Regions from separate parts of the Homo sapiens genome. Here all the other regions are reported to be linked to region 6. The links are microRNA targets in miRTarBase. Many come from high-throughput screens and were not tested one by one. Region 6 holds a microRNA gene; each other region holds the end of a gene's coding sequence.
The links. Region 6 holds the annotated microRNA hsa-miR-6844 (UUCUUUGUUUUUAAUUCACAG, at 2,260-2,280, opposite strand). A microRNA usually pairs through its seed, bases 2 to 8, with sites in the 3' UTR of a target mRNA and lowers its output. Matches are read on the target gene's strand: a 7mer-m8 pairs with bases 2 to 8, a 7mer-A1 pairs with bases 2 to 7 and ends in A, and an 8mer does both.

Region 1 (4,068 bases), not on the chromosome of region 6:
CTGCAGCAGCCAGGTCTGCCCTCGGTGGGGGGTGGGGGGGGGGGAGGCGGGGCTCTGCAGGCCGGGCTGGGGCTGCCTCCAGGGAGAGGACCCTGGAGGCTGGGGACAAGCCTGGGGGAGACAAACCAGTACTTTCTACCACATACCCTGGTGTGCTTTTAATCCTTGTATGACATGCACATTACTTAAGATTTGAAAAGCTGGTTGGAGGCCAGGCACGGTGGCTCACACCTGTAATCCCAGCACTTTGGGAGGCCAAAGCAAGCGGATCACTTGAGGTCAGTGAGATTGAGACCAGCCTGGCCAACATGGTGCAACCCCATCTCTACTAAAAATACAAAAATTAGCCAAGTGTGATGGCACGTGCCTGTAATCCCAGCTACTTGGGAATCTGAGGCATGAGAATTGTTTGAACCGGGGAGGCGGAGGTTGCAGTGAGCGGAGATCGCACCATTGCACTCCAGCCTAGATGACAGAACGAAACTCCATTTCAAAAAAAAAAAAAAAAAAAGTCTGGTTGGAGACACTATATATAGCTAGACCCCTATTTCTGCTGGTACGTATATGCACCCACACACATGCACACAGCACACAGCACACATGGAGGGGCTGGGAGGGAAGCATCCAACTGTTCACATTGGGATTGTGGGAGTGAGGGGACTGGTGGGTAACACTGAGGTTTTATATCGTTTTAAGTTATTTAAGCTTTTACTAGCCTGTAACAACTGAAAAAGTGTGTTTTACACCCTAAAGGTGCAGCTGAGGACCTGTGCCCATGCCTGGCCCCCAGGGACTATTCTCAGAGCTCACCCGCGGTGTGAGCCTGGGGCAAGTTTCCAGACCCAACACACCAGGCTCTGGCCTCAGGCCTGCCTCCCAGCAGCCTCTGCCCCCACCCTGCCCACCACCAGTCTGAAGGAAGAGGCGCGGAGTCGTGGGGAAAACATCCACTTTAAGCTTTATTACAACACATTGTCTCCAAATACAAAGGGAGGGGCCGGGAGCAGAAGGTGCGGCTGTGGCGGGAGGGGCTCCAAGGGGGGCTGAAGGGCCGGCAGCCCAGTCTACAGAGACTGGAGGCTCAGCGGGGGACCTGCACCCTCTCCTCCGCTGGACTTCCCAGCAAATAACAGGAGGGGCCGGGTCCATTTTGGGGCGATCCCAATGCCAGGCAGTGGCCAGGTGGGAGGGGCCGGAGAGAGGCTTGGAGAGGACTCAGGGCTGGGTCAGGTGAAAGCCACCAGGTGGGGCCCTGGCCCGCCTCCCGCAGCACTGGAGGAGGCAGTGGCCAGGTGGGAGGGGCCGGAGAGAGGCTTGGAGAGGACTCAGGGCTGGGTCAGGTGAAAGCCACCAGGTGGGGCCTCAGCCCGCCTCCTGCAGCACTGGAGGAGGCAGTGGCCAACACAGGACCTTCGCCCCCCTGCTGGCTGCTCACTTTGCGGTAACCAGTGCCTCAAGAGTGGGAGCAGAGACAGACTGAGACAGACAGCCCCCCTCAACGGCCTGCAGAAGGGACAAGGGGAAGGGGGAAGGGAGAAGGGGGCCCAACCAGTGGCCCCAGACCACTGTCTCCCGGACAGCACAGGGGTGGGGGGCGAGAAGCGGGAAGCCAGTGCATCCTCCTCACCCAGGGTCTCCTCAGAAACCCAACGCAACAGACATATGGGAGGCAAATTTACATAATTAATAATAATTAACCAATAATAATAAATACTTAAACCTCTAATCCATAGATTGCAAATACAACGATAGCTTATTTTCTTGGGGGAACAGGAGTGGGTGGGGACAGAGGGAACGGGAACAGGACTTTTGCTGAAAGGAGGGATGACAGGAACACAGAGCTGTGGGTGAAAAGAAGAACAAATAGAAGAAACAGCAGAGAGGGCGGCTGGCTGGGGCGGGATGGGCGCCTCCCTGGCCCTGCTCCAGGACTCAGGACTGGGTCCTGCCCTGGGCTGCCTCTCCGGCCAAGCCCCTGGCCTCTTCCCACAGTGACTGGCCCCACTCCTAGACCCTAGGACATCTGAAGGGCAGGGGTCCCAATGGCCCGAGGGGGTATGGGGCAGGGGCAGCAGGCTGACCCACCTGGGCCCAAAAGCCACTTGTGTTTGGGGGCTGGCATGCCACCTAGAGAGAGAGCACCCTGGGAAAGGGGTGAATGGGAGTTTCTCTCCTGAGCGGCCCCATGGGGGTGGGGGCAAACGAGGGGGCTTTACCTGTCTTGAGGCAGTGCTCCCTAAGTGAAGCAGGCCTATCCCAGCAGCACAGGGGCTTGGCTGGCGCCTGAACTCCCTGTGTGAGCAGCACCTGCTCACAGAGCCCCTCAGCCTGCAGGTGCACACCTGAATTCCAAGTTCTGCCTGGGGCATGGCTGGGAGGGGGGCGGGGCAGACCTGGAACAGAACCCTAAGACCACCCCCTCCTCATACCTGGGGGTCCAGGGCTTCCTGCCCAGTGGAGCCAGCACTGGCTAGCCAGGCGCCTCCTGCCTGACCCCCGGAGGCCAAGCTCCTCTCCTGCAATGGTGCCACCCTGCCCGGCAGGCAGCTCTGGGGGCATGGGCAAGGGAGAAGGGAGGGCCGCAGCCCTCTAGGAATGGCCTTTCTGAGCCACTCTGTGGCTGGACTGGGGCTCTGGCAGGAGTTGGGGGCACTAACACCTCTGTCCTCCCCTGGGCTGCACCTCATCTGACGTTCCAGAACCCCCTGCCCGAAGCCCCTACACACACTGTTCTATTTCTCAGCCCCTCTGAACACCCTGGCACCATGAAGCCCAATGCCTGTCCTCCCCTGCCAGAGAACAGCTCTGGGGCAACGGGCAGCGGGGTGCCCTCCTTGCCACCAAGATTTGGTGCCTGGAGCTGATGGAGGGCTGGCCGCACCTCTCCGGGGCACACCAGCTCCTGCTCCTCCATCCTATGGCTTTGGTGCAGAGCCCTAGGCCGGCGCAGAGAAGGGAGGGAGCAGGGGAGGTGGGTGGGGGGAGAAGGGGGGTTCTGCGGCTCAGTTTGTGGCAAAGAAGTTTTTTTTTCCTTTTTTTCACCTTTTTGTTATGTAAAAAGTGCACGAAAGCTCGGCAGCCTTTGCAAAGGTCAGCAGTGTTTCCTGGGGCGGGGGAACTGGGAGGGGCCCCAGGCCTGGCACCCAGCTTGCGACTGAAGGTGGCCTCGTATTGCTTAGAAACGTATGTTTCAGTTTAAATACCAGACAGTAAAAATAGAGCTCGAGGACCACCCGCACTGTTGCCAAATCATTGCCAGAATGAACAGCTTAAATAAATAAAAAATCGAAATATTTACTTCTCGATAAAAATCCCAGTAAAACCATTTACCTTTCTTTGCATTATATATAATATACATTTATAACGGGCCTGGCTGCGGGCGGCGGGGCCGAGGGCAGCGGAGGGGTCAGGACACCTCGATGACCTCCACGCTGCCCGAGAAGCTCGCCTGCTTGCCCAGGGCGGCCAGCTCCTCGCCGCGCGCGCGCCCCTCCACCATGCCCTCCTCGAACTCCATCTGGCAGCTGCGGCGCTTGAACTGCGTCTCCGGGGCCGGCTCCTCGGGCCAGCCGGTCCGCGCGTCCCGGGGCTCAGCCCTCGCTGCCTCCCGCCGCCGCAGGTCGCTGCCGCCGCCTGGTCCCGGGGCGCCCGCCCGGCCGAAGGGCGCAAACAGCACCCCGCCCGCCCCCTGTGCGCCCTCGGGGCTGAAGCACCAGGGCCCGTCGGGCGACGGCGTGCCTGGGGAGTCGAGCGGCGGTGCCCAGGCCCCGGGGCCGGCCGGCTGGCCAGGGCCGGGCAGCCCGGGCGCCGACAGGGCCGAGAGGCCGTGCCGCGGAGTCTGCCGGGCCGCATCGCCGAAGTTCAGGCCGAGGCTGTGCGCGGGGGAGCGCGCGGGGGAGCCGGCGGGGGGCCGGGGCCGCCGGCGGGGCCGTGGGCGCGCCTCAGGCGCGGCGTCCGGGCTGTCCGGGCTGGGCGAGGACAGGCCCAGCGCGGCCCCCGACGGGCTGTCCAGCTTGCAGAGCTTCGGGGCCTCGCCGGGGTCGGGGGGCCCGGGGCCGTCGGGCCGCC
Region 2 (4,068 bases), not on the chromosome of region 6:
GACAGTGCCATGTTCTTATGTTCTCAGTGTCCTCTGTGCCGTCACATGTAGTGAAGTCATTTAAGAATCAAGCAGACGCAGTTCTGCTTAGACACTACCACGGATGAGGATGGTGTATGTGAAGAGTAAGAACACAAAGTTAAAAGAATTATATATCCATACTTCAAAAGTTCCAAATGTCAAGCCTAACTTAAAGCACAACGAAACTTAAGTTTAACTTGTCTTCCCAGTTACTACTGTAATCACCTTTTATTGCCAGTTCTTGTTCTATTGGAAGACCAGTAAGAAGCCAAAAAAAAAAAAAGTTTCAAATATCAATTGTTAAAAACAACAAAGAAGAGTTTAAGGAAAGAATATATTTGAACCACATAAACAAACAAAAAGGTATTACATAAGAAAAAATAATGTAACAATTTATGTAAGTACCTAACATATGAGCATGCTCTTACATCTAAAACAAAAAATAAAAAGGTAACATTGGTACTATATATATATATTTGACAAGTGTGCATTAAAGAATTCTCTAATATAAAACATTTAAAATGTGGAGAATACTTTTTCAAGATACAGAAAACAATTGTTATGATAGGCACACCCACAATTCTTATAACAACATGCTTGCGAGGATAAAATCCACCTGAGCACTCATTTCTCAGATGTACCAACGCTAGAAAAGTGTTAAGCACTGAATATTGCCACCCACTTTTGCAATGTTTGAGTTTCAACACTGATTGGTATGAATTCTGAATTACACAATTAATTACTGTTATTTTTCAGTCTTTCTGCCATGTTCCATATAGAAGGCATGTATTTAATATGAATACTTAACACAGCAACATTATTTGTAGCAAAGTCACTTCCCTGTGTTCATTTTTCCTTTAAAGGCACTACATTTAGAAAAGTTATTACAACAAATAGTGCTTTGGAAGATCTGAAACTCCAAATCAATGTGCTCCATCAACCATAAGTAGATCTAAGAAGCCCTGACTGAAAATAACACAAATGTAAAAAGTTGATAAATTTAAAGATTATAAAATTGGTTTATTGTAAAAGCAATTCAAGAATACCCAGTTAAAATCTTATCCCAATGCTACCCAATACAACCAAGAAGCAGTTAAGCACTTTTACATTAGGAACAAGGACATAAAACAAGAGACCACATCAAGGCTATGATTCAAACTCAAAAAGGGAAAGGACTCTTAGGTCTCCTTCAGGTCAGTACAGAGGGCATCGTAAGATCAAAGCACTGTGCCAGGTATCACAGTACTGCTACAACACTGAGGTATAACTGGGCAAATTAAAGTTGAGGGGTAAAGGAAGATCTCCATATTCATATTGTTTTGTGGGTGTACTTAGGTGACTGAAACTCTAGAACAGCTGCCTTTAATGGCAGCACGGTGTAAGACAAGTCTTTATTAAAGAGAAAGAAGTTTATAAAGTTCTCTATCAAGGTCCCCCTAAATCTTCACAACCCCCCCCCCAAACTTTCCCACCCTCCCCCTAAGCTAAAGCTAATCTGCTGATATATAAGATATAATCTTAATCTGTGGCTACTGGCAAATTATAGGCACTCCTTCCAAGTAGCTTTGATCTTCTGCACATTAAAAAAAATCCCAACAACATGCTATGTAATTCATATACCCAATTTTGCATTCTAGGTAGAATTTCATTACTACTCTAAAACTCCATCTGCAGTGGCCATTTCCCCCCAGACTTAATTCAAGATTTAATCTTTCTGCTGTTTTCTTAATAAAAGCCTTAGAGTCAATTATTATGAGTGATCAACCTATGAACTATTATATACAACACAGTGATTGCATTTTTTTGAGCACTGAAAGTACTTAAAATAAAACTTCTTACTTCCAACTTTTGCCCTCCTCCAAATTGAAGGGCCAAAATACTTAGATTTTGTAATTGGGGGGAAAAAAATCTATCTTCCCAAGCTGAGGCTTTTCATAGCAGCTTTTGCCAGGAGAAGAGATTTTATGCCTGTTATGAACCCTTGAAAATAAGGGCTTATTCTAGAAACATTGAAAGACCCTTAAAACACAGAGGTGCTAGCTGGTGCCACTTTAATTCACAACCAACTATTACTTCATAGCTTATATTGAAGAGTTAATTCATGCTCGTTTTGTTCCTTTAAAAAATACTCTTTGGAAACCATTATTACTCCTGTAGACACATACTCTAGTTACATCATCTCTTCCTGTAAAAATAAAGGTATAATCATGATTATCTCTATTTCTTTGCTAAATTCAACTACCAATATACATTTATTAATCTGATCACTTTTCCAGCTAACTCAAAACCTTATAGTATTCTATCCAGGGTCAATTTTCAGCATAGAAGTAGGAGCAAGTCTTGTAAGTAAGAACAATCTTGAAGGCAATATTTTAATCTAGTCGTTAATGTGTTCATTACAAATGAGAACTACAAACTAGAATTTACTTCCAAAACTAAGGCAAAGAAAACTTCCAAAGCTAAATGAAGGTAAACCACTATAAAGCTTATTTCTGTCATGCACATTATGAACCTACTCACTGAATTCCAATCGAGACTTAAAAATTAGTCCAAGGGAGAAAATAAAGCCATTTCTGGTTTGCTCCTTTCCAATTCATCAGATAATATCTACCGTATGCCCAGAGGGCGTGGAGCACTCCCCTAGGCACTATCCACAGTAATAGCTCTTTCTAGAACACTAAACTACTTCAAACATCTGCAGACTGCCCCAACCAGATTTAAACTACCAGTGAAATATAAACTACTAGTCATGTATTCTAAATGCATACAAAGCGCTACCATTTTAAAAATTAACTGGAAAGCAGGGAAACCTAAAAAAGGATACATTCCACTACCACACTATTATAAATGTTATGTTTGGGTGTGTGTATGTATATAAAAGAGAGAGCAGATAATCGAGATTTAAATAAGGTGGTAAAAAAAACCAGGAAATGAAGATTTTACCAAAACAACTACAATAACCATCCCAAGCTACAACTATTAACAGATTCACTAATATGGTCATTTGCCTAGGTTCCGACAAAACCAACCAACCAACCAACCCCCCCACCGACCCTGCCAAAAACAAAAAAAACAAAAAACCCAACAAAACAGAACAAAATGCACACCCACAAAATTATCCACCAAAATCTATATTAGAGTATGTGGCAATAATTAATATATTTATATGGAAATTGTCTCATGCCTTATAAGCTCCTAAAATAAAATCAAGGTCATTATGTGACTAATGATAGCACTAGGAGGAAAAGAAAATACTGAAAGTAAAACAGTCTTCAGCCTTGGTTTCAGCTATCTCTTCAAATCAGCATTAAGTATTTAATATCAGATATAACATTTTTGGCTTGTCAGACCAGTAAATCATGTTTTTCCACTGGACAAAGGAAGCTGAAGAAACAACTGTTGAACAAACTAAATGCTGTGACATGAAGCATCTGACTTCTAAGTCTGAGTATTTAGTTAAAATGATTGGTGAACATTTAACTGGGCAAAAGGAATGGCATCCATCATCCAAACAGGCTCACTTCCCCCAGCCCCCAAAATGAACAGTAGTTTTAATAGCAAAAGAAATAAAAAGTTTTTTTCTTTTGATTCTTTAGAGCCAACTGTGAAAGAGGTCAGCAATACATTAACAGCAGCAATGGACAAGGAAGAGCAAAATAGAGGATTAAAGTATCTTGCTGGACGTTTGTTCATCTTTTTCTGTATTAGCCTGAAAACTGCAACTGGCTTATGGAAATTTCCGGTGCATGTGTCTCCTTAGATCCTTCACAGATTTAGAATTCAGTCTGCCTGAGGGCTCTATAACCATGTAAGAAAGCTTTCTTTATCTAGCTTGGTGGCAGCCAAAACAGACTCCATGTCATTAAGGATGTCAGAACTCAAAGCTTCCTGCAGACTTGGCATCAGCTCCTCTCCTTCTATGTTCATTCCATCTCCTTCCAGTGTTCCAAGGTCCACATTTGTCCCAGGAATGGCTTCAAGGTAGTCTGGGAAACGGTTCTGCTGTGAGGGCAGGGTGCTTTGGTTGATAGTATCACCTAGTGGAAA
Region 3 (4,065 bases), not on the chromosome of region 6:
GTGGCATGTGCCTGTAGTCCTGGCTACTCAGGAAGCAGAGGTGGAAGGATCACTTGAGCCAAGGAGGCAGAGGTTGCAGTGAGCCCAAATTACATCACCAGCCTGAGCAGCAGAGTGGGATCCTGTCTCAAAAAAATAAAAGCATGAGATTCTAACATGATTATTCACTTGGGTTTCTTCAGTATTCAAAATCATGAATTTAGATCATAATATATGGTCTAAGACATGATACAGACATTGTTTTAATGAGTATGATGAAAGTTTCAAGAATTTGCTTTGATTTTTTAATGTTAGTATAATTTTGTAATGTCATAATGCTAATTTTGAAACTTTCTAACTGGTAATTTTTTTCTCTCCTTCCCCTCTTCCCTCCCCCGCCCGCCCCCCATACATTTCATCTTGTCTTCATTCAGAGGAATGCAGTAGCATGGATAGTTGATGGTGAATTTGGAGCAGACGACTTCTGTTTAACTTAAAATTAGTCGTATTTTAATGGCTTGGGATTTGGTGCAAACAAACATGATTGATAGCTGGACAGACATGCTCGTCATGAAAAAAGAACCATTTCTGAAGCCCGATTGGGGCCAAACATTTACACCTTGCTTCATAGTAACCAGTTGAGATGAAGCACGTCGTTAGAACGTTGTTGGACACCATGTTGAATTATTCCCCCATCGGTTGTGAAGAACTGTGCTACATTCAGGCTTACCCATTGAACTCAGTATATATATTTTTTTCCTTCCTGTCTTTTGTCTGGCAGGATACCATTCTTGTTGCTCTTCTGTGTAATGAAGTTTAAATGCTTGTTTGGAAAACTTTATTTAACAGTTTAGAAGGCTTGATAGAAAGAGTGCATTAGTCTGAAGAGTATACATTGGATAGGAAAGAATTTCCTTCTTTTGTTTCTCCAAATCTTTCCGCCTTATTTAGCTTGAGATCTTTGCAGCTTGGTTCATGGATTCTAGCCTTGCCCGTTGCGCAGTATATACTGATCCAGATGATAAACCAGTGAACTATGTCAAAAGCACTCTCAATATTACATTTGACAAAAAGTTTTGTACTTTTCACATAGCTTGTTGCCCCGTAAAAGGGTTAACAGCACAATTTTTTAAAAATAAATTAAGAAGTATTTATAGGATTAAAGTGACTTCATTTGTATACATTTGGAATCTAAACCAGCTTAAAAACAGTTTCCTCAATGACTTAGATACACAGTATAACTGATGCTCTTCTGGAATACCACATGAGACATGGTCAGAAACAGTGCTTGGAAGGACATTACACAAGAAATTCAGAGTAATGCTTTGAAGATTTCCCCCCTTTTGTTTTATTCCTGAAGGAACATCAGTACCCGATCTTGAAGAAATTCAAGATTCAAAAAGAATTTTAAATACACCAACATGAGACATCAGTAGTCAGTTGGTTTTCAGTAAAGCTTGTTCCAAGTTGTTCTCAACTTAGGAAGTAATTTTGGTGTGATCTAGCAAAAGAGTAGGAATCAGCGATACAACCACTTTGGAAGTTTATAGTATAATTGAAATTATTAGAAGAATTCAGCAGGTTACAGACATACTTAAACTGGGATTAAAACCTCATAGTCATTTTTCTTAATTGCCCTTAATATTTTGACATATAGGGATACATAAATTTAAAGAATATTTTTTCTCAGTTTTTTCAGATATTGCCATACTGAACCTCATTCTAAACTGGTGCTGTGGATAGTCTTTCCCTCTCCCCTCCTGTTTTAGTTTAAGGAAAGGTTTCCTTCATGGAAAAGCACTTTTAATTTTGAGAATTTCACATTTAAAATAAGCCAAAAGCCTGATGTTCACATTGTGCTTTTAAACTCCGTAACAGCTGAATACAACATAACATAGTCTCCCTTGAAATTCCCTCCCTTTTTCAGTAGAGGATAAATAGGGTGACTCCAGCTGTTGGAATGAGAATGGGGATACCCCCAAAATAAGATTCTGGTGAAGAAAAAGTCTTGTACTAAGTTCCCCTTTAGGTGTAGCCAAGTCTATAATATAATTATGATCATGAATAGACTCCAGAATCCACAAAGAGAAGAGGGCTTGGATGTCAAAAATTCTTCCATTGTGGGGTAGGTGGTCGGGGATGGGAGAAAGGGAAAAGTCAGGGAAGGGGAGAAGAAAGAAAAACACATTTGGCCTTAAAATAGCATGCATTCTCCCAGAAGCCCATAGTAAAGAAAATGACAGATCGTGGTCAGCAGACTCTTATCAAATTGGTATGTAAAAGATTTCTTCAAGCTCCATTTTGCAGAGACCACCACTTAGAGAATCAAAAAATTCCTGTTTTGATACTTCTAAGTTAAAATATATGTTACAGTTTATCTGGTACTTCATTTTTCTTAACTAAAATTACTTTTTACTTTAAGCTTGAATAAAAATCTTCATTGGTAACTGTATGTAATTAAGTGGCAACTTCTCTTTACCTCAGTATAGTTAAAAACCATTCATATTTTAAGTGATTCATGTATACCCTGAAGCCGTTAATACACCCCAGTCTCTATGGTAACATCACTAAATGTGGGCATAGAAACTCCACAGCTGTTTACAAATTTGGTTACAGTGTGCTACGGTGCATTTGTAACACTCAGATTTGTGCCCATTCAGGGGCAATTTGGCACTCAGATTCTACTCTACTTCACCTAACCACCCCTAGATCTGAGTTTTCAGAGTGCTTCTGAAGTACAGTTTAAAAACACTTTTTAAAAAGTGGAGTAAAAGTGAGGCACATTTTACAAGAACATAACTCCTATTAAAACGGAGTAACAACTATGCAAAGGTTTCTATAGCAGCTAGGTGAGTTTGTTTTCCGGGTCTGTCTTAACTGGCAGCTTCCTGTACATACTGGTACTTATTTGCTGTAAACGTCTGTTTCATACATTTGCCATGCAGTGACTGTGCTCGAAAGGTGAAATCAATGGTAAAGAAGCCTAGGATTTTATGGTATGAGAAACTGATCGCAGGATTTTCTGATCCATAGCTATTAATTGAAAACTTCTGATAGTGCTGTAGGCTCTATAGTAGGCTTAAGAGTGAGTCTTATACTATGAAGCCAGCCACAAGATACTAACAAATGTATAAATTGAAAAGTACCAATACTTTTTGCACATAGATCAAAATAGAGTGGAGAATTTGGGCTCCAAAAATCAGGTTAGTAGGCTCATTTCCATGTGCTTAAAAATGTTTTTGTTGTTATGCATTGATTAAGGGCTAGAGCAAATATAAAATTAAATGTCTTTTTCCTCCAAATAATTGGTTATTAATGGTAAAATGTTGGACTTGGGGATTACTGAGATTAGTATGTGGGTAGTAAAGAATTGGAGTGGGAGTTAGTGGGGAGGGATGACAAAGCTTCAGCTTTGGTTTTTGTATTTTTTTAGTCTTCATAACAGCTACATTTCTGTTGCTCTTATTGGCCAGATAAATGTGTTATATTAAACCAGGTAAGTATTTTAAACAGAGAACATTTTATTTGCATATATCCCTACAAATTGGCCCATTTTATTGGGTGGGGGGATAAAAAAGGGATTCCCTAACTTTAAATAATCAGAATATCCTGCAATTGAAAGGAGAAAAAAATCCAATTTTGTCAGTATTTTCTTAGTCTGAAAAAAACAGCAGTAGTAATCTGGTGAATGTTATTATTAGGAGTGTTCTGCCTCTACAGTGGCATATTCCATGACATTAATAGAAAACCCTTCTTTCCCACCCCTCCCCATCTTGACATTTTCTTTTTTAGGATGTTGGTTCCTGCAAACAAGAACTGACCCTATCACCTCTGCCTCACAGTGGGTAAATATATCATACATCTCTTGAAAGGGAAAATATCCATGTCAGTTTCTTTCACAGTAGAAGAATGGCTGCTTTTGAATGGGGAGGAAAGAAGACATTTTTCTTAATATCCTTTTTGTCCCATCTCTAAAATGTATAAATATTTTGATTTGGTTTTACTTTAATTTCTCATTCATAATTTCGCAACTGTCCTTTTGGGTTGCCCTCCAACACATTACTTCCATTTCAGAAACCATATCTG
Region 4 (4,061 bases), not on the chromosome of region 6:
GGGACAAATGTGTAAAAGAATGCCTAGACATCAGGCACCTCAGACCATTTGCCCATTTTTCAACAAAAATTATCTAGATCTTGTAGGATAGACAAATTGAAAGTGCCATTCTCCGGCCACCTGGAACTACTGTTGAGTTTGTATTGGAGCCAAGTGGTACTGCAGAAGAAAATAAGGCATTTAAGTTTTAGGTCAGGTGTGAGTTGAAGAGGTTTTAAGTTCTTGAGAACACAGGCTAAGGGAGAAGGGGGAATGGAGGGCGGAAGGTTGCCCATAGTGAAGGAGGTAAGTTTAAAGAGAAAGGTAGAGACACGGGGAAGGGGGTGGGCGAGCAGCCCGGGGCTGCAATGTGGGTGAGCAACCAAAGCAGACGTCCCCGCAATTGACTTGCCACCAAGGGAATGTGGGTGAATCACCAAGGCAGGCTCCCTGCAGTGATCAGACACCAATGAAATGTGGGTGAATAATCAGTCAGGCGTCCCCACAGTGATTAAACACCAAGGGAAGACTGTCTTCCTGAGTCCATGACCGGCGCCGGAGTTTTGGGTCCATGGATAAAATGTGTCTCCTTTGTCTCTACTAGAGAGGAAAAAGAACTGGAATTGGAAGGACAGGGAGATTGACGAGACAGGCTGGAGAAGAGAGTGAAAAGACCGCTTACCGGATTTGAAATTGGTGAGATGTTCCTTGGGCTGGTTGGTCTGAGGACCCAAGGTGGTAGGTGCATCTCTTCACAGAGTGAGGGTGAGAACAGGGGACTGGTCTCCCGAAGGAGTCCCTCTGACTCGGGTCTTTGGCACCAAATGTCTCTCGCGTCCGTGTGAAGAAACCACCAAACAGGCTTTGTGTGAGCAACAAGGCTATTTCATCTGGGTGCAGGCGGGCTGAGTCCGAAAAAAGAGCCAGCCAAAGATGCTTTAAAGTTTATGAATTAAAGTAAGACATAAAACTGGTAAAATCCAAATTAGGTCTGTAGTTTAGTTAATAGTAGTACACCAAATTTAATTGTTTTGATAAAATATTATTGTTAAATAAAGTTATCATTGGGAAATAACTGAGTGACAGGTAAACAGGAACTCTGTAATATTCTTGCAACTTTTATGAGTCTAAAGCTATTTCAAAAAAAGCTTTTAGCGCAGGGCACAATGGCTCGTGCCTGTAATCCCAGCGCTTTGGGAGGCCAAGGCAGGATGATCACTTGAGCCCAGGAGTTTGAGACCAGACTGGACAACAATACCCCATCTATACAAAAAATAATTTTAAAAAATTAGCCATCATGGTGGTGAAAGCCCTGTAGTCCCAGCTACTTAAGTGGCTGAGGCAGTATTGCTTGAGCCCAGGAGTTTAAGACTACAGTAAACTATAACTGCGCCACTGTACTCCGGCCTAGGCAACAGAACAAGACCCTCTCTCAAAACAAAAAAAAAAAAAAAATTAAAAGAAGAGGTAAGTTAGTCAAATGAAGAAGGCTATTATTTACCAGACTTAATGTTGCAATGTATCTAGCATTTTTCAAAGGCAATAACATCTATATCTCTATTTTAGAAACATTTTACAACTCTGTTCTTTAACATATGACAGACTTAAGTTCTAGGTGGCTCGGTATAAGTTTCAAGTTTTAGGCATAGCAGAAGAGAAAATTCTGGATGAGAAAAATAAGTCTTGTATTATTAATTACCTTTCTAGGAGAGCAAACTATAAAGAGCAATAAATAAATTCTAATGGAAGACATGATATAGGTAATAGATCCAAGAGATAATCCAGACCACCATTAGGCTCAATTCTATTATGACCACCACACTGAGACAACTTTTGAGTCATGACAAATAAATAATAAATTTTTATTAGCGTCTTTTCAATTCTACAAATTTTAAAAGTCATTATACATTTTTAAAGGTTACTAAAAATCACTGAAATATGTCTCCACTTAAAATGGAATCAAAGTAATTTATACAATTTTCACCTTTAATATTCATAATTTATTTAAAAGTAGAATAAATTTTAATTCTAAAATGATTATTACATCTTTTTAGAACTGAAATTACATTTCAATGAGTGTAGCTCCACTGTAGTTCATAAGGTTTATACTTAAGAAATATTTAATTAACAAATTAATTTATACCAAACAAAAACAAACTAAAAAAATGCATACGTATAATGAGACAGTTTATGTATGGTAATTACAGATTTGAAATTAAGTCTCCTTTGCAAAGATCAGTGCGTCTGGACTGGTTAATCCACTAAATTATCATCTTTGAATAAGAAACCAAAAACAAAAATGACTTGGAAAGAAAAATAGTAGTTTAAAAGTGAAAATGACTCTTCCCCTTATTTTAAAATACATAAAATTTTCTAAAACGTAAAATGGAAAGGTTTAATACACAGGAAAAACACTGCACACCTTAACTAAACAAACTAGAAAGAAAATATATTTATATACAGAACTAAGATGAGTCCATTCATTATTTTTACAAATATTCACATAGATGGTTTAGAGATAAGTAGTTAAGTGTGTCTCATTAATTAATGGATGCTTTCTAGCCTCTGTCTTCATTAATTTTATTTCCTATTCAACAAAAAATAATGCTTTCAGGATATATTACATATAGAGCAATATCATTTTTATCAGTAATTTGTCTGAAAAAGAGAAAAACTTAAAAGCAGAACCCTACAAAGCAAAGCAAACTACAAAGCAAAGAGTAATCACAGTGTTTGCAAAATAGAAATGTGTGACTTTAACTTTATAGCAGGCTGCCTAATTAATCCAGACAGTAGAGAAAGCAGACTGAGGCAGGAAGTAAGAGGTGGGACTAAACTGTTAAGAAGATAATAATTTAAAATAAAACTTCAGAATCCTTATTCTAGGGATTCCTTTAATTCCACTTTGCAACTTTTAATAGGTACACTAATTTACACAGGACACACTACCATTTACTATGTAACATTAAAGCTTTCAGTTTAAGAAACTGGTCACCAACGAAGTGAGAGGCACCAGGGAAAAAAGCCAACCTGCTGAGGAAGACAAAAGAGGGGAATGACAGAAGGAAGCTGGATCTTTTATAATGTAGTTTAGTCACTATGCTGATACTGGAACCATCTACCTCTACATTTCCTGCTATGAGAAATAATGTCTTTGTCTTTAAATGTCTTTTTTAAAAAAAAAACAAAAGAAAAGAAACTGGTCAAAAAGTTTTGCATAAGATTCATTTTAAAAATCTTTTTTCCTTAAAACAAAAACGATTAAAAACTTGGGTTTTCTAAAGAAACTTATATTAATATGAAGTTACGAAGATACACAAAGCTGAAGTATCTGGAACCATTTGGCTGCCTGTAGTCTTCAGCAAGATCACAAAGTACTCAAAAACTCTTTGACCTGAGGAAAGGAAGAAAAAAAAATCAGTATAATTCCTTGACTAATTTGAGGTATCTAATATTCATCTTCATTTAAAAGTATATAATAGTTGAAGACCCCAGCTGTATAAGTAACTACCACAATGCCATTGCATTTACTTTCCAAAGAAATATTGTTAAGGCCGGGCGCAGCGGCTCATGCCTGTAATTCTAGCATTTTGGGAGGCCGAGATGGGTGGATCACTTAAGGTCAGGAGTTTCAGACCAGCCTGGCCAACATGGTGAAACCCCCCATCTCTACTAAAAACACAAAAATAGGCCAGGCGCAGTGGCTCATGCCTATAATCCCAGCACTTTGGGAGGCCGAGGCGGGCAGATCACCTGCGGTCAGGAGTTCGAGACCTGCCTGACCAACATGGAGAAACCCCTTCTCTACTAAAAATACAAAATTAGCCGGGCATAGTGGCACATGCCTGTAATCCCAGCTACTAGGGAGGCCAAGGCAGAAGAATCGCTTGAACCTGGGAGGCAGAGGTTGTGGTGAGCTGAGATCGCGCCATCGCACTCCAGCCTGGGCAACAAGAGCAAAACTCCGTCTCAAAAAAAAAAAAAAATTAGCTAGGCATGGAGGCGTGCACTTGTAATCCCACCTACTTAGGAGGCTGAGGCAGAACTGGTTGAACCTGGGAGGTGGAGATGGCAGTGAGCCA
Region 5 (4,061 bases), not on the chromosome of region 6:
TTTTATTATTCTAGTTTCTTTTGTTTGCATTTAACTTTTTGGCCCATGTGAGATGAGGCTTTAACTAGAGTTTTTACAGAATACCCAATTTTTCTAATACCTTCTCTTGGCCTTTAAAGAAATGTTATTACAAGCAATTGTACTGAAATAAGCAGCATGCAAAGACATAGCTCGGTGTTCACTGTGAACTTTGCTTTCTCCTCCCAGGTGAGCAGGAGCCAGCTGTAAGCAGTGATTCTGACATTTCCTTGATCATGGCAATGGAGGTTGGACTGTCTGATGTAGAACTTTCCACTGACCAGGACTGTGAAGAAGTGAAATCTTGAAACGACAAATCCAGAAGCAAAGAGATAGTAGGACCCAAGGGAAAGGAAGGGAAGAGTGCTCCAAGACTTGGACCAGGCACACACACACCTCCAGATCACCTTGGCAACTCCAGGGCGCTCCGTTCAAGAATGCTGACGAAAAGCAATATCCAAAGTCTTGTCAATCAGGATGCAGTTTCTCCATCGGTATGGCAGTCTGTGGCCTTGGCAGCTGGGAAGTTGAAAGCTGATTTCCACTCCTATGTCCATGTAGACATACACTTCAGAAGCTCCTAAAACAGAGACTGAAAGGCCACCTTTAGGATTTCTTAGTTTCATTTCAATTCTTTCCATGTCTCATCATTCTTGTTTTTGGCATGTTGTTTGATTTCTTTGGCAATTTTTTTAAAGATTATTTGTAGTTTACTTTCCATCTATTCCTTTGTTTTTCCTTTGATGCACTCCAGCTTTTGTATAGGTTTCTGTTTAGAAGCACCAGTTCCTGCTATGATCAGTTTGTATTCCATCTCTGAGATATGTGGTCTTGACCTCCCAGCATGAAGTGTGCATGGCTTTGAGAAGTGCCTCAGCACCCTGAAATGGACTAAGGCCAGCTTTCATTAAGAATCTAAGTTCTTCTAAGTGGGCCTTTAAAAACCCCAGCTGCCAGAGACCCCAACACTAAGCCCTAAATCTGCTGAGGCCACTGCTGGTTATTTTAAGCCACATCACACTTGCTTCCACTTGCCGGGCTTGATTAAGGGCCCACGTGACATGAGAAGGGAGCTCTAGGGAAGCCGTTTCATTCTTCTGGGTCTTACAGTCTTTGGCTGAAATTCTGAACTCAGAAGTCCCCTCCAAGGCATCCAGTCTTTGGTGGTTGTAGGGCTGGTTTTAAAACCAGATACCACATTTTCTTCCTATTGAAAACAAAATGCCAGTTGCATTGGTTTCCCCTGGGCTAGAACAGTTTTTTTCTTACCTCTGTAAGTGGGTTCTGTAAAAAATGGAGGCTTTAGAGAAAAGCCAATCATTTTTAAGTCCAATGGCAAACATAGTGGGGGCTGCAGTAGCACCTAGCTTTTACCTTAATTTCGACACACTTCTGTTGAATCTCACCAGACCATGTGGGAGGATTTAGGTGAATCCCTAGCAGATTGCTTCCCAGGGCTCCCTGAGTGTGTCCAGATACCAAGTGAGGAATGAGGTGTGATTTGCTGTATCATTTGAACCAAAAAGTATGCAGCATGAGAATTTGCTAGATCGTTTATCCTGACTGAAATAGACAAAGTAAGAGGGAAAGGAAAAGAGGTATCAAGTAAATACTGAAACCCAATGGTGTTTTTAAACTGTTTCTGTTTTTATTCATCTTTTGTAACTATGACAGAAATGTGCTATTTTTTCAGTGGGCAATTTTGTAATATATTCAGACTATCCAGATACAGAGATGACTAAGGTCATTGATAGCGTCTCTGAACAATCAGACGGATCACCTTATCTCTACACAGCTGGCAAACACCAGGCTGCGGCTTGGATTAACCAGGAAAGAAAGCTTTTCTCACTGAGTTGTTTTTATGTATTGATGGGGACTTTTCCACCTCATTAGACTAATACTCATTCAAAAAGAGTTTGGTTCTGCTGTAAATCCTTGCCGCCTGCTGAAACATGGTGTGCAGGTCAACGGAGAATACTAGCTGCTCCTTTTTCACCACCTTTACCAATTTCCTATTTGATGGTTTGTAAGTAGACAGTAAGGCAAGGCAGATGATTATTACCCTCAGAAAGGTTGCATCTCCCTAGGAGTCCAATGCTTCCTGTAATGAAATCCACTCTCTATGTGTGGGAAAAGAGGCAGGGAGGAATGAAGAGAGCTCTGAATCGAGAATCCTAGATGAACCACACGCTTTACTAAGCCTCGGCTTCTTCATCTATAATGTGAAGGGTTTAATAACATGAGTCCCCAAGCTCCTCTGGCTGTGGGACCACAGATGAGTCTTTCAGAGGCAGGATCCATTTTTGCAGATAGCTATGACTTGTGGCAATCAGGCTTCGTAGCTTGGGGAGGTAGAGTTACTTGACATGTATCATGTAATAACAGCCTTTGAGACTTGGCACAACTATGGTGCTGAGAATGAAAATCTAAATGATTGAAGTTTTAAGTCCAAGTAGGAGTTGGTTTGTTTTGCCTTGTTTAAAAATTGCTGTTAGTCACAGAGTTTGCAATCTCTGGATACCTTCAAATCCTAGCTCTCACTGTGGGATTCTTGATCTCAGAGGTGTTTATTTTTCACAGTCAGCATAGGCTTGCGCCACTGACTCCTCCTTCAGTCGGCTTTGCCCAAAACAAATTTTAGTATTACTGGTATTAAGTTTAGTCCAGTGGAATTAGAAGGATAATTCAATAGCAACAGAAATATAAATTATATTCCATTCCCAGAGAGAGAATGCGCTTTGGATTGTTTAGTCCTCTGATTAACGAGTATTTTCTCTTCCTGCCAAGAACTAGGTGAATCAGGAATTGATTGCATATGCAAGCCCTGGCCACAGCTGCACTTACAGGATGCCTCATAGACGATGAGGGGTCTGAAAGGCCAACCCGAGGCTGGCAGATCTGACCCCAAGGAGGTCCTGCTGCAAACCCCCTGAGCCTTTGCCATTCACTACTTACCAAAGTTTGTTTCTGGAGGATTTTCCTGTAGCTTTGATAGTTTAAAAAAAAAAAAAAAAAGAAAAAAAAAAAGCTTAACCAGAAAGTTTCTCTTTCAGAAGAAAGGGGAACAGCCCTTCCTTATAGCCTTCTTTACCTCCCCCAAAGAAGAGACTGACCTGGAGACCTGGTAGTCTACAGATGAGTGTCAGAGGGTGTGTGTACCCTCTAGAAGCAAATGCAGACTGTATGTGTATTTGCAGATGTGCATTTTTCTATAGCAAGAGTCTAGACTAGCACTGTCCAACAGAAACGTAATGCAAGTCACAGACATAATTTTAAATTTTCTACTAGCCACATTTTAAAGTGTAAAAAGAAACAGGTAAAGATAATTTTAATCATGTACTTTAACCTAATATTGTTTCAACATGTCACTAATGTAAATTAATGACATGTTTTACATGCTTTTGTGTACTAAGTCTTCTAAATCCATTGTGTCTTTTACACTCACAGCACCTCTCAATTTGGATAGTCACATGTGGCTAGTGGCTGCCAATTGGACAATGCAGGTCTAGAGTTCCTCCAGTATTCTCACAAGATCCCCCGACCCTTACAAAAGAAAAGAAGGTTAAAAGCTTAATTACCTCCAGGGAGAACTGGACACCACCCAAGTCGCCTAATGAGAGGCCCAGAGGTCCATTTATTTTGTAGTGAATAAAGATTCAGGCACCCTTTTTAAAATTTCTGCTTGAACTTTCTAACCATATCATTGATGTCCATGACCATTTGTTGTTACTCCTCTGACCAGTTGTTACTTAAAACTCACACAAACCATGCTGATTTGGTGCTGAAACAAAATTATACCCCTCACTTCTATGGCAAACCCTCGGACTGATATGTGGCACTTAGGAGCCAAAGAGAACTCCAGACTGAAATCACCCAACTTTACCTCAACCCCTTCTTCTTGTTCATGGTTGGTGAAAGTCCTTTCCCAGTGTCCCCCAGTCCCACAGCTGTAGTGAAAACTCACGAACTTGGGAGGAAAGAATGAGAAATGCAAGACTTTATGTGGCCTTCTTGAAAAAGAATCTTTGGGGGCCTGTGATCAT
Region 6 (4,068 bases):
ACTTGGAAGACAGAAGTTGTGGTGAGCCAAGATCGTGCTATTGCACTCCAGCCTGGGTGACAGAGCAAGGCTCTGTCTCAAAAAAAAAAAAAAAAAAAAAAGAAAAAGAAAAAAAGAAAAGAAATAAAGCAAATGGGCTGAGAGGTAGAGTCTGAAGGTTAGGATAAATACCACTAATAATCCCAACGGCATTAGTTAAAACTAAAACCCCTCTCAATTCTTAAGTACAGTTCCTACAGGATAAATTACAGAGTAAGTAAAAACAGGAAAAAATTACAGAGTTAGTACAAACAGGAAAAAAGTGCACAGTAATATTAACATTACAGCAATGCAGGATGCATACATATTACTAGTAGTATAGATGAGGCAGAGGTTGAACTTAGAGAATACGCATAAAACTGTCAACGTCAGGCCGCATGGGAATGCAAGTGCTTGGTGCTATTTCCTCTTTCCTTAGCAGGCATAGTGTAACTGTGATTTAATCTACCTGGATTACAGTTCTTTTGCTAGACACAGTCACTCACTGAGTCACTCTCCTGAAATTGCATATGAATATATGTATATCTGAGCATTTTTCTAAGGCAGGTTTCCAAAGGAGTCCATGATCGAAGAGACTAAAAATCATGGCTGGGCAAGGTGGCTCATGCCTGTAATCCTAGCACTTTGGGAGGCTGATGGGGGGAGGATCATGAGGTCAAGAGATCGAGACCATCCTGGCCAACATGGTGAAACCCCGTCTCTACTAAAAATACAAAAATTAGCTGGACGTGGTGGTGTGCACCTGTAGTCCCAGGTACTTGGGAGGCTGAGGCAGGAGAATTGCTTGAACCCAGGTGACGGAGGTTGCAGTGAGCTGAGATTGTGCCACTCCACTCCAGCCTGGTGACAGAGCGAGACTCCATCTCAAAAAAAAAAAAATCACTGCCATAGATATCGGAGGTATGTGGTTAGCAGATAGTATTTATGGGAAATGTCTCCAGAATAATGACTAAAATGGCTATATCAGAGAAGTGTTTAGTGCAGAATGCAAATTACAGAAAGGAGAATGACTCTCTAGATCAGAATAGTAGGTGAATACAGCGGACAAGAAATGAGAAAGGCAAACCTAAAACAAATGGTAAAATATTTCAAAACATAAAAATTAGTTTATATTTGCTCAAAATTTGGATGGAAGAACATTAAAGAACAGCTGACAGAAGAGACGAAGAATATCATGCACAGCATTAGGATGTGTAGAATTCAAGGGCCAGGCACAGTGGCTCACACCTGTAATCCCAACACTTTGGGAAGCCAGGGTGGGCAGATTGCTTGAGTTTAGGAGTTCGAGATCAGCCTAGGCAACATAGTAAAACTTCATCTCTACAAAATATACAAAAAAATTAGCTGGCCATGGTGGCACATGCCTGTAGTCCCAGCTACTTGGGAGGCTGAGGATGGCTTGATCCCGGGGAAGCAGAGGTTGCAGTGAGCTGAGATTGTGCCACTGCACTTCAGCCTGGATGACAGAGCCAGACCCTTTCTTAATAACCAAAAAAAAAAAAAAACAAAAAACACACACAAAAAACAAAAAAAATTTCACAGGGTTTTCTTGTGAATGGAATTCTGTACGCATTCTTGTACTTTGAACAAAGGAACTGTAATTAAAACTGATTTGTGTTTATGCCACACCTGGTCCATAAATTCAACAGTAAATTTACATGTCTTTCAAAGGATGGGAAAAGAAGCTCCTAATTCTATTGAATTCTATCTAATTCCTATGTTTTTCTTTGTTATTCCTTTTTAAAAAAAATTTAAATGTTGACATCTGAATTAGGGGCCATCCTTAATAACCAAGATGCTTTGTGTGTCACATAAATGTTAAGTATCCCTTATCCCAAGTGTGTGGGACCAAAAGTGTTTCATATTTCAGATTTTTTCAGATTTTGGAATATCTGCATATACATAAAAAGAAATCTTTGGGAAGGGACTCAAGTCTAAACATGAAATTCATTTATGTTTCACATACACCTTATACCACACCCTGAAGGTAAATATTTTAAATAATTTTGTGCGTGAAACAAAATTTGTGTACAATGAATAATCAGAAAGCAAAGGTGTCATTATCTCATGCCAGTGCTTAAAAAGGTTCAGATTTTGGAGCATTTTGTACTTGGGAGTATTTTGGATTTTTGGATTAGAGATGTTCAACCTGTATTAAAAATGACTATTTTATACTTACCACTCCCCCTACACACCGATCTCTATTTCTTTTCATTATGTCTGTGAATTAAAAACAAAGAACTTTTAGCAAATAGCTTGATTTCTACAAAATTCTTAAGTTCTGAATGAGACTTTGGTTTTAACTCACCCAAAAATTCAGCATGTGAGTTTCGACAATGAAGAAACATTGGTAATTTTGTTTGTTCTGACAGTTCAAACTGTTTTTCAAAATATCTGCATAATGCAAAAAAAAAAAATTCTCATTACAAATTGTATTTTAGCATGAGGAAGGTAATGATGTCAAAAGAGCTTTTAAATTAAAGGTATTTAATTCTCTAGAAATTACAGGACAAAAATCATGAATATTTAAAGCACATCAGGCTTATCAAAGGGCTTTTATAACTTACAACTTCTGGAAAGAAATACTTCATTTTCTGGGCTTACAAAATTATCTGGGCCCTTTAATTTTCAGAAAGTAACACCACTGGCCCCTTGCCACTGGGAGCACCATCAGTGGGAGTCAACTCACCAAGCGAGAAGCCCAGGAGAGCTTCATACTGCATGCTAATCTATTCCATTTTGCAACCAGTTTTTTATGTGCTGTTATAAAAGAAGTTATTGCCACTGGGCAAAATGAACAAGGTTTCCCTCAAAAATGAAATCTAAGTATTTGCTAAACAGCAAATAACTCAATTATGCTATTAAAAAAAGAAAATTACATGATAAAGTGGTAGCCCTGAATATCTTAAAGAGTACTTGATAAGAAGGTTTTTCCAAGTACCAGATACCATTGTCTCATTTGATCCTCAAAATAACCTGAGTATAAAAGCTGGTGTCAGAGAGGTGTAGTACTTTGTCCAAGATAACAATACCTGGCATGGCCAACTTGGAACAGAACTTCACTGCTCTAATTCCAAGTCCCAGCCTAAACGACAAAAACCTGTTACGTTTTCAAGAAGCTTCCTTCTGGTCCCGGAGTATAATGACAATATTCAGAGGATACAACGAATGTTCATTCTGTTTGTCTTTTCACTTCAACACAGTGCTCCCCCTTGTTCTCACAAATGGTAGGTTCAACTGAATCAGGATAACAGGTGGCTTATTATTTTCTTAAATGTGCTTACCTCTTCTAAGCACTTTAATTTGGGGAAACAATTTCTCTGTTTAACTTAAGCCTCTCTTGCTATATTTTTCTATATCATATTTCCTGATGTGCAGGACTATTTTACCCCCTTTGCTCTCTTGAAAATGCTAAATTTTAAAATTAGAAATAGAAATGTACTTCTTAAGAAGCAGTCTTCAGGCCGGGCGTGGTGGCTCACACCTGTAATGCCAGCACTTTGGGAGGCCAAGGCGGGTGGATCACTCAAGGGCAGGAGTTCAAGACCAGCCTGGCCAGCATGGTGAAACCTCGTCTCTACTAAATATACAAAAATTAGCCGGCATGTTGGCACATGCCTGTAATCCCAGCTATTCGGCAGGCATGAGAATCTCTTGAACCCAGGGTCAGAGGTTGCAGTGAGCTGAGATTGTACCACTGCACTCCAGCCTGGGTGAGAGAGCAACATTCTGTCTCAAAAAAAAAAAAAAAAATTAAAAATTAAAAAAATAGAAATAGTCTTCCTAAAATAGGTCGTCTATGTCTGTATTACCAAATGTTTGGGTTTTAAAATCTCCTTTTCAGATTCTGCTGGGTTAGAATAAGCAAAAATATTTTCCTTTCATTAACAAAGTGCTGAAATTTTGCAGTGTAGGAAATATTAACGACAACTTGGACAAAAAGAGATTTTGATAATATAACCAGTCACTATTTCCATAACCTCTAAAGTAAACCAAATGTCAGCAGTTAAGTGTGCACTAGTCATTATG
Region 7 (4,068 bases), not on the chromosome of region 6:
ATCTATCCATTCACCCATCCATCCAAGCACTCATTCCATCAACAACATTATTGTGCATCTACCATGTGCCAGGCGCTGTGCTAAACACATGAAGTCTTTGCCTTTATGGAGTTTACAGTCTAATGAGGGAGTGAGACAGTAAATGGACTACTAAGTGAATATGAATTCAGGAAAGTTCCATAAAGGTCAGGGTGCTACAGTGGAAAGTCTCAGGGCGAGGAACTTAGGGTGAACAGAACAGAGAACCTGACTGAAGAGGAAGCATCTGAGACTTGGTGAGCGGGACCCAGGCCCAGGAAGGCACAGGAAAGAACATCTGCCAAAGCCCTATGGCATGAAAGAGCATGGTGTGCAAGCCGTCCCCAGAAAGGCCATTTGTCTGAAGCACTGGGAGCTAGAGGAGTGGCCTGAGATCACGTTAGAGTCACCATAGTTTGAGTTTTTAAAAGATGCTCCTGGTGGCTTCTTAGAGAATGACTGAAGAGGGGTAAGAATGGAGGTAGGAGCCTCTAAAAGCTCTTGTGGTTGTCCAGGCAAGAGATTCTGGTGGCTTAGGACCACAGTAGTGGAGGTGGAGAGGGGAAGAAATGGATGTATTTGAGCTATATCTTGGAAGAACTGATAATACTTGCTGATAGACTGGAGATGAAGAGTGAGGGAGAGGGTAGAACTGAGGGAAATGCCTGGATTTCTGACTTGAGCTACTGGCACTGAGAAGAACTTGAAGAGGGAGCTGGTTAAGTGGGATATGATAAAAGTTACTGCTCAGGGCATGTTTAAGAAGACATCTGTGAGAAAAGTCAAGACGGGAGTTTGCTACAGCAGTCTGGAGGTAGAGACCAGTGCTGGGATGTAAATGTGATGATATATTATGTATGTATATATGTATGTACTTTGAAACAGGGTCTCACTCTGTCATCCAAGCTTCAGTGCAGTGGCCCAATCACGGCTCACTGCAGCCTCAACCTCCTGGGCTCAAACAATCCTCCCACCTCAGCCTCCTGAGCAGCTGGCACTACAGGCACATGCCATCACACCCAGCTCATTTTTCTGGTTTTTTGTTTTGTACAGATGTGGTCTCACTATGTTGCCCAGACTGGTCTTGAAGTCGTGGGCTCATGTGATCCTCTGGCCTTGGCCTCCAAAGTGCTGGGATTACAGGCATGAGCCACTGCACCCAGCCAAATGTAATGGTATTTAGAATCATAGAAAGAAATCGCCACAAATCCAAAAACCAATCCCAAGAAACTCACAGCAGTGGAGCAGCTGCCCAAGAAGATGAAAAAGAATGGCCTGAGAGGCAGTGGAAAAGCAGAGACATGAACAGAAGTCAGTTCAAGGAGGAGTGGTCAACTGGGTCATGTTTTGGAGAAGTCAAATAAGGTGAAGACAGAAAGATCTCCACTAGTTCTGGCAATATGAACATAAAGGGTGGCATGAGCAAGAGAACTGTGGCTTAAGTGGTGGCAGCCAAGTAAGATTAGAGTGAAGAATGAATGAACCACTCATAAAGTCCTTAAGAAAACTAAGAATAGAAGGAAACTTCCTGACCTTGATAAAGCATTATCTATCAGAAACCTACTGTAAGCATCAACTTAGTGAGGAACGAATATGAGCATTACCACATTTTATTTCCTCCAGTACTGCGCCAGTGGTCTCAGCACAAGGCAAAAAGGCAATAAAAATAAATGAGATACTATCTGCATGATTCAAATTAATAAAAGGGTTCCACAAGCTGGCTAGATATATAATATCCAAAAGCTATTCATTAGCAATAATCAAATGTAAAAGAAAATAGGAAAAAGGTCTCAGTTGGATAACAAAACTACACAAGACCTTTATGGGGAAAAGCGATAAACCTTTACCAAGGCCTGTGCCAGGAGATGCCCTGGGAAGCGGATTGCTTCAGCTATTGGCGACAATTCCTTCTTCATCTGGAAATTCATAGGCTTGATAAACTATCACTAGTGTTTCTAGAAGATGGTAACATGTGACCTTGGTCATTTCATCCCAGAGAAAGTTTATTATAAGTTACAACAAACGAAGAATATGTAAAAAACAAAATGTTCTGCAAAACATTGTTTTATTATGAGAAATTATACAGGGCTCTTACTTTTTAATATTTTTATGACAGTAGAGGAAGCCTGCTGCTTCTCAGTAAGGATCCCAAACAATAAAAGCTGGACTTGCCTGTTGCCACTAGTCCATTATCCCAAACCGTGGGTAGGCCGCTTGTCATCTGCCTCTCTATGACAGAAAGGGGGATGTATGTGCCACTTCAGCTTTTTAATCAAATGAAGGAAACCATATAAGCAAAGGGTTGAGGAAACAGTGTAGGTACTTATGATACTATTATTTAACATCTAGTATTATTTAACATCTATTATTCAGTGAGCCATGACTGTGCCACTGCAATTCTGCCTGGGTGACAGAGCAAGATGCTATCTCAAAAAAAAAAAAAAAAGGCCGGGTGCAGTGGCTCACGCCTGTAATCCCAGCACTTCTTTGGGAGGCCGAGGCGGGTGGATCACGAGGTCAGGAGATCGAGACCATCCTGGCTAACACGGTGAAACCCCATCTCTACTAAAAATACAAAAAATTAGCCGGGCGTAGTGGCAGGCGCCTGTAGTCCCAGCTACTGGGGAGGCTGAGGCAGGAGAATGGCATGAACCCAGGAGGCGGAGCTTGCAGTAAGCTGAGATCGCGCCACTGCACTCCAGCCTGGAGGACAGAGCGAGACTCTGTCTCAAAAAAAAAAAAAAAAATTTCCCCCCAATAAATGTATAACCCATAAATTCAATTTAATCTTAATTAAAATTTCCAGTGGCTCTTTGATGAAGTTAACAAGAATAGGGCCTTGCCCTACTAGATATCCAGTCTTAGAACAGACAAATAAAGCAATGGAAGTGTTGTGGGGGCATTTTAAAGGGAGAAAATAAAGGATGAAAGATGGCCTTTAAGCTGGGAAGAAGGAAGTAAGGTTTATACACACAGCAGAATATTATTCAGCCTTTAAAAAGAAGGAAATTCTGACACATGCTACACCATAAGGTGGATGAATCTTGAGAACATTATATAAAGTAAAGTAAAATAAGCCAGTCACGAAAGGACAGATATTTATAATTTCACTTATGAGGTACCTCGAGTCATCAAATTTATAGAAACAAAATACACTGGTGGTTGTCAGGGGATGGGGGATGGGAGAATCAGGAGTTATTGTTTCCATGTGTGGTGACTGAAAAAGTTCTGTTGATAAAAAGTGGGGATGTTTGTATAAAAATGTGAATGTACTTAATACCAGTGAATTGTACGCTAAAAAAGGGTTAAGATGGTAAAGTTTATGTAATGTGTATCTTATCACAATTTAAAATTTTTAAAAATATAAATGACAGGAAAATATTAACTGAAGTTAAGGCAACATTTATTTGATTTCCTTATAATCATATTATCTAAGGCAGAAGTGGTGGTTACTTGGCAAGAATACGATTTCTTTTAATGTCTTCTATAGTTGAGTTTTAGCTCAGAAATACATCATATTTCACTGGTTCAAATCTGAGAGAATGTACTTCTAGCATGGGCTCCTATTCATGATCAATGCATTTTTGTGTCACCATGGCTTGATCAAACTTAATCACTGTTTCAATGGCAGGGCATGGCCAGTTGTGGCAGCTGCTCTGAAGGTCACTTGTTTTACTGTGGCCTGGCCAAGTAGAGTAAGGATGGGTCACAGTGAGCTCACTGGTCTCTTCAGGCTGTGCTCTGAATGATGACAGCAATACCTTGGCCACCTCCAATGCAAGCTGATCCAACGGCATATTTTCCACCTCGACGCCTGAAAAAGAAAGCAGTGACTGAAATCTACTCTAATAAAAAATCAGATTAATGAAATAGAACTAATAACATCACATCTGCATTACTCATCCTTATTCAGCTCATCTGCTCAATCTTTTCCCCAGTCCTCAATTTTGGTATAATTACAACAGGCAACAGACTTTGGAAAGCTGAAAGTTTTTAATCAAAAAAAACAAAAAACAAAGAACAAAAACAAACACCAGAAGAGGGAGGCAA

Region 1: the mRNA of DUSP8 is a reported target of hsa-miR-6844. Seed matches in the 3' UTR shown: 7mer-A1 at 3,333-3,339.
Region 2: the mRNA of YAP1 is a reported target of hsa-miR-6844. Seed matches in the 3' UTR shown: 7mer-A1 at 2,243-2,249.
Region 3: miRTarBase lists WDR26 as a target of hsa-miR-6844. Seed matches in the 3' UTR shown: 7mer-m8 at 2,060-2,066.
Region 4: the mRNA of DCK is a reported target of hsa-miR-6844. Seed matches in the 3' UTR shown: 7mer-m8 at 3,131-3,137.
Region 5: miRTarBase lists RNF150 as a target of hsa-miR-6844. Seed matches in the 3' UTR shown: 7mer-A1 at 3,116-3,122.
Region 7: miRTarBase lists ACAA2 as a target of hsa-miR-6844. Seed matches in the 3' UTR shown: 7mer-A1 at 2,502-2,508.

What each region holds. Positions count from the first base shown.
Region 1 is chr11:1,553,112-1,557,179 of GRCh38, forward strand. It overlaps DUSP8 (dual specificity phosphatase 8), which reads right to left. Exons shown (of 7, transcript NM_004420.3): 7 at 940-4,068. The coding sequence ends at 3,407. LOC124902608 reads right to left here and starts at 2,369. Exons shown (of 2, transcript XM_047427956.1): 1 at 1,838-2,369; 2 at 1,496-1,569. The coding sequence starts at 2,369. The coding sequence ends at 1,496. RefSeq lists an enhancer at 2,256-3,053.
Region 2 is chr11:102,229,692-102,233,759 of GRCh38, reverse strand. It overlaps YAP1 (Yes1 associated transcriptional regulator), which reads right to left. Exons shown (of 9, transcript NM_001130145.3): 9 at 336-4,058. The coding sequence ends at 3,820. Among named protein-coding and RNA genes, the nearest start is that of BIRC3, 86 kb to the left of the region's middle.
Region 3 is chr1:224,386,209-224,390,273 of GRCh38, reverse strand. WDR26 (WD repeat domain 26) reads left to right here. Exons shown (of 14, transcript NM_001379403.1): 14 at 414-4,065. The coding sequence ends at 439. Among named protein-coding and RNA genes, the nearest start is that of MIR4742, 10 kb to the left of the region's middle.
Region 4 is chr4:71,028,664-71,032,724 of GRCh38, reverse strand. DCK (deoxycytidine kinase) reads right to left here. Exons shown (of 7, transcript NM_000788.3): 7 at 1,811-3,373. The coding sequence ends at 3,347. Among named protein-coding and RNA genes, the nearest start is that of DCK, 37 kb to the right of the region's middle. RefSeq lists an enhancer at 3,447-3,947.
Region 5 is chr4:140,864,526-140,868,586 of GRCh38, reverse strand. RNF150 (ring finger protein 150) reads left to right here. Exons shown (of 7, transcript NM_020724.2): 7 at 208-4,061. The coding sequence ends at 326. Among named protein-coding and RNA genes, the nearest start is that of TBC1D9, 110 kb to the right of the region's middle.
Region 6 is chr8:124,506,256-124,510,323 of GRCh38, forward strand. It overlaps MIR6844 (microRNA 6844), which reads right to left and starts at 2,321; the gene lies at 2,260-2,321. It overlaps TATDN1 (TatD DNase domain containing 1), which reads right to left. Exons shown (of 12, transcript NM_032026.4): 7 at 2,348-2,433; 8 at 2,219-2,259.
Region 7 is chr18:49,780,100-49,784,167 of GRCh38, forward strand. ACAA2 (acetyl-CoA acyltransferase 2) reads right to left here. Exons shown (of 10, transcript NM_006111.3): 10 at 2,065-3,832. The coding sequence ends at 3,748. Among named protein-coding and RNA genes, the nearest start is that of ACAA2, 31 kb to the right of the region's middle.